2 separate regions of the Homo sapiens genome follow, and region 2 is linked to region 1. Evidence: fine-mapped expression QTL. A gene starts in region 1. The other region holds a variant in brackets. All regions are shown on one strand. Distances are from middle to middle.

Region 1 (2,788 bases):
GGAAAAAGGGAAAAGCTCGGTACAGGTGGGCACCGAGGCACCGCGGGCGGCCGGCAGCGCGAAGAGGAGGTTCAGCTGCTGCCCGGCCCCTGCGCCACCAGCGCATTCCTGGGTGTAGGCGTCACGGGCGCCGCGGCTGCCTGCGCTCAGTTTCTTTCCCTCAACAGCGGCAATTGCACGTAACCGCGTCGCCTCTGGGATTTTCTCCCGCCTCCCATCACCCCCGCGGCGCTCCCCGCCTCCCCGCCAACCAGCAGGTTAGATCTAGGAGGGGCGCCCGCCTTGAGCCGGGTGGTTCCGCCGAGGCGCACGCAGCGCCCATGCAACACCCCACAGTATCGGGCCACCTCGGCCGACCCAAGGCGACTTGACCACGACTCCGCGGGCGGACTGCGCCTGGCCACTAGTGGCTCCAACCGCGGGGTCACCCTGCGGGCACACAGCGCTCTCCTCTCCCCACTGCTATCTCCTCGTCCACGCTGTCGTCTGCCGCCCCCACCCAGAAGGGATACAATTTTCGCCCAACAGGGACCGTGGGAATCCCTTGGGAGGGGCGCAGACGGCTTGTAGCGCGCGGTTTCCCGAGACCCGCCGCGCATCCCCCAGCGACTGGAAACCCGCCCCAAGCGCCACGCGGTCCTCCCACTCTTACCCGAAGTGTCCCACAGGCTCAACTCTATTCTTTGTGTGTCGATTTCAAAACTGGCCGTGTAATTCTCAAACACTGTAGGAACGTAATTCTGGATAGACAAAATGGGCAAAAGAGGAAGGAAAGAGGGCAAAGAGGTTACGTTTAAACGCACGACACCCATTGAACACCCTTCCCCTCCCCGCTCCCCAGTTAAGAAAGAAAACCTTCACACATCAGACCACACACTAAGCACATGGACCCTTTCCGAAACCCCTGTCCTACTCCCCACTCACCCCACCCGGCTCTCACAGATCTGCTGACCCGAATCTCCCAACCCCAGGTTATGCACACAGGAACGAACAAGTTTCAGGAGCTAACCAGCCCATGTGCAGGCGCGTCCCAACCCTAAAAGCTTCCAGCGCACTTTCCCTTTCCCCGCAGTCTAATCAGGGGAAAGTAGTAAGGACCGAGAAAGACTTTTTTTTTTCTTTTTTTTTTTTTTTAAGGGAAAACGGATGAAAGCGGGGAGGCCCACCTCGGGACTGGGATCCCACTGGCCGACCCCCTCGTGGAAGCCGCGGCCGGCCACACTCACCTCGGGGAAGCAGTCCTTGGCGAAGACATGGAGCAGCGCAGTTTTTCCACACTGACTGTCTCCCACCACAACTATCTTGCATTTCACGTTCTGATTAGGATCCATGATAGATTTGCTGGATAATTTCTGGCTGGCTCTTCTCTCCTTCATTGATGTTGCCTTATTTTCTCTTGGAACAGGAATTTTCTCTTAAGAAGAAAAAAAAAAATATATATATATATATATATTTCTCTCTTTATAAAAAGCAGATATAAAAATAAATCACAAGGCTGATGGGCAACCTCTGAAACGCGGCGCAGACGAGGAGGAGAGCGAGAGGAGCAGGCTGGTTACTCCCCTCCAACAAGTTTTAAGCCTGACTCCTCACCGCGCCTCCCAAGTCCAATTCCGAGCCGACTGCTTTGTTTCACGCTCTCTGCGCGGCTTTATACGCCCGGCCTTCCAATCCTCTTCTTTCTCAATGAGAGGAGGAAACTGATCTGCCTCCTCCCCTTTTATGGAGCCTGGGAGCGAGCGCTGTTGGCGTTGCATGCCGAAAATGTAAGCAGTGCGCCCTCTAGGGTGCCCATTCGGGATCTATTTTAGACCAAGGCTCTTAGACAACATGAAGATCCCAAAGATGCTTTGCTGACAAGTCCACAGGGCAAGGTGGGAAACTGGTATCTGTGCATACTGATTTGAACTACAATCCCTTTAAATATAGTTTAATAGGGGCTTATCTGTAGAAGCCTCATGAGCATTTATGAAAACAAAAACATTTCCCACCCAAGTTAAAGGACAGTGATAAAACATAGGAAGCAAATCTTGGGTGGAGAATAGTTGAGTGGTTCTATTTTTTTTTTTAATGGTTTGTATCAGGTACATAGGCCATGGACCAATAGATCAGCCTCTTTATTCCAGATGCAAGAACAGGCTTGCCTGGGTCACGGTAGTAGACTGGCTTCTGAAACCTGTCAGTTTCAGTCGTACAAGTGGAGGCAGAAAGGTTTCGAGGGGTGGGTACAGGAGGTGGGAGGGGAGAAGAAAGAGAAGTGGAAGATGCCCATGACTGAGTGACAAAGGCCATTGGAAACTCAACCCTACTGCGCTAGGGACCCAAACACTTGTCAGCTTAGTTGCACCTCCCCACATTTGCAGTGAGGGGACTGGTGGGGGGGCAGATTTTGATACTATTAATTCTTTATCTATAGCCTCCATCTTCCCGGAATCAAAGCACCCTAGACTGGACTCAGAAGGCACAAACATCTTTAGCTGAAAAATGCAGATACAACCCTCCACCCTCTCTTCTGTCCTCCTCCACATCCATCTCCCTAGCCCTCCAACTCTTCCCCGCAAGCAAAAATCTTAGAAAGGACCAGAATAGCCCGCACATTTGTTCTTTTTCTATGAGAAGTCTTTCTTTTTCTCATCTTCAGCTCCTGCACCCTAAATGCTCAGGAGGTTTCAATTGTTACAATGTAGTAGCACACTGGCCAAAACCAGCTTATATGGTCCCCTGTGGAGACTCCTAGGCTTGTAAATGAGAAGATAAGGTGAAAACAAACAAATCAGAAAGTTTAACA
Region 2 (2,788 bases), 90 kb after region 1:
AGTCACAAAAGGTGAAGCATAAAGACAGAAAGGCAAATATTAGGACAAAACACATAATCATCCAAAATTTGGATGGTGCCAGGGAAAGGAATGAGAAATGGAACAATATGTATTTTGTCATTGCTTATAGTAAGGAATTAACAGTCTTTCAAAAGAAATACAGGATTAAGGACATTGTATAATGTCAATCATACAGAACAAATATGAAAACCTTTTAAGTCATAAGAATTAAGATAGCCACAAAGCAAAGAAAATACAGATCTTATAGAAAACCATACAAAGTAAGAATAAAAACTGAGATGAAGGTGGTGTAAAATATTACATACTTCTAAGATCAAACATTATTTTCACATTAATAAATGTATTAATGGACAAATTTGCCTATTCAAAATCCCAAAAAAAGATTTTTTTTTTTGGAAATTGTAAAGCTAAATTTAATTGTAGGCTTTATACAACAGATACTTAAAACAAAAAAACAAAATAAGAAAAGTTGTAAATTAAATTATGGGAAAATGCATGTGAGAAAAATGCAAGCAAACAATTAGGAAAGCAGGGGTTACAACCTTAGTATTAGAAAAAGTAAATAGGAACTGCGCACGGTGGCTCACGCCTATAATCCCAGCACTTTGGGAGGCCGAGGCGGGTGGATCACGAGGTCAGGAGTTTGAGACCATCCTGGCTAACACAATGAAACCCCGTCTCTATTAAAATACAAAAATTAGCCAGGCATGGTGGCAGGCACCTGTAGTCCCAGCTACTCGGGTGGCTGAGGCAGGAGAATGGTGTGAACCCGGGAGGCAAGCTTACAGTGAGCCGAGATCACACCACTGCACTCCAGCTTGGGCGACAGAGTGAGACTCCGTCTCAAAAAAAAAGAAAAAGAAAAATAAGTAGGGGGAAAAAAAGGCATTTGATGATACAATTATAGTCAACTTAGATTGGTAAAGAATGAAATTTACGATAGTGTTTAATAATTAGGAATAGCCATATACCAAATAATGTAGTATTAATAATCATAAAGTAAATAGCACAGGAAACACAAAGAAAAAAGAATCATACTATGAGAAAAAGACTTAGCCTGTTCTCAGACTGTTACGCAGTCCCCGGTATTGCCATAAATACCGGGGACTGCGTAATTTATAAAGAAAAGAGGTTTCATTGGCTCATTCCATAGGCTATATAGGAAACATAGTGGCTTCTGCTCCTGGAGAGGCCTTAGGGAGCTTTTACTCATGACAGAAGGCAAAGTAGGAGCAGGCACACCTCACATGATGGGAGCAGCAGGAAGAGAGAGAGGAGGGAGGTACTACCTACTTTTAAACAACCAGATCTTGTGAGAACTCAATAATTCACTATCACAAGAACAACACCAAGGGATGATGCTAAACCATTCACGAAGAATCCACTCCATGAATCCAATCACCTCCTACTAGGCCCCTCCTCCAACACTGAGGATTACAATTCGACATGATATTT[G/C]GGCAGGGACACAGATCCAAACCACATCATTCTGCCCCTGGCCCCTCCCACATTTCATGTCCTTCCCTGATTGCAAAATACAATCATGCCTTCCCAACAGTTTCCCAAAGTCTAACTCATTCCAGCACAATAACAACACCGAGAGATGATGCTAAACCATTCACGAAGAATCCACTCCATGAATCCAATCACCTCCTACTAGGCCCCTCCTCCAACACTGAGGATTACAATTCGACATGATATTTGGGCAGGGACACAGATCCAAACCACATCATTCTGCCCCTGGCCCCTCTCAAATTTCACCTCCTTCCCTGATTGCAAAATACAATCATGCCTTCCCAACAGTCCCCCAAAGTCTTAACTCGTTCCAGCACAGACTCACAAGTCCACAGTTTAAAGTCTCATCTGAGACAAGGCTAGTCCCTTCTGCCTATGAGCCTGTAAAATAAAAAATAAGTTACTCCCAAGATGCAATGGAGGCATAAGCATTGGGTAAATACTTCTGTTTCAAAAGGGAGAAATTGACCAAAATACAGGTGCTACAGGCCCCATGCAAGTGCTAAACCCAGCAGGGCAGTCATTAAATCTTAAAGCTCCAAAATAATCTCCTTTAGCTTCATGTCCCACATCCAGGGCACTCTGATGCAAGGGTAGGCTCCCAAGGCCTTGGGCAGCTCTGCCACCATGGCTTTGCAGGGTTCAGCCCCCACAGGTGCTCTCAAGGGCTGGCATTGTGTGTCTGCAACTTTTTCAGGCACAGGGTGCAAGCTGCCAGTTATTCTACCATTCTGGGGTCTGGAGACGGTGGCCCTCTTCTCACAGTTCCACTAAGCACTTTCCTTGTAGACGTTCTCCATGAGGGCTCCACCCCTGCAGCAGACTTCTGCCTGGACATCCAGGCATTTCCATACATCCTCTGAAATCTAGATGAAGGCTCCCAAGCCTCAACTTTTGCACTCTATGCACCCACAGGCTTAATACCACATGGAAGCCACCAAGGTTTATGGATTGCACCCTGTGAAGCAGTGGCCCAAACTGTATCTGGGCCCCTTTGGGCCATGGCTGAAGTGACTAGGATGCAGAGAGCAGTGTCCTGAGGCTGCACAGGGAGGCAGGGCCTGGGCCTGGTCCACAAAATGTCAAATGCCTTTGAGACCTTTTCCCCATTTTTTGGCTATTAGCACTTAGCTTCTTCTTTTTACTTATGCAAATTTCTGCAGCCTATTTGAATTCCTCAACTGAAAATGGGCTTTTCTTTTCTATCACATAGCCAGGCTGCACATTTTCCAAACTTTTAAGCTCTGCTTCCCTT

Direction of the effects. Alleles are on the strand shown, and positions count from the first base shown. SD is a standard deviation of normalised expression in the study named.
In carriers of allele C in region 2, the expression in skeletal muscle of the gene that starts at base 1,626 in region 1 tends to be higher than with G alone (small effect, 0.19 SD a copy in GTEx).

Evidence for each region. PIP is the estimated chance that this variant, and not a neighbour inherited with it, causes the effect.
Region 2: its variant is the best candidate, but not a certain one, in a credible set for the expression of RND3 in skeletal muscle (GTEx, PIP 0.70).

The regions. Positions count from the first base shown.
Region 1 is chr2:150,486,042-150,488,829 of GRCh38, forward strand. It overlaps RND3 (Rho family GTPase 3), which reads right to left and starts at 1,626. Exons shown (of 6, transcript NM_005168.5): 1 at 1,508-1,626; 2 at 1,227-1,414; 3 at 653-740. The coding sequence starts at 1,376.
Region 2 is chr2:150,576,343-150,579,130 of GRCh38, forward strand. No RefSeq gene overlaps it. Among named protein-coding and RNA genes, the nearest start is that of LINC01920, 5.5 kb to the left of the region's middle. The variant G/C (reference allele first, on the strand shown) is at 1,477.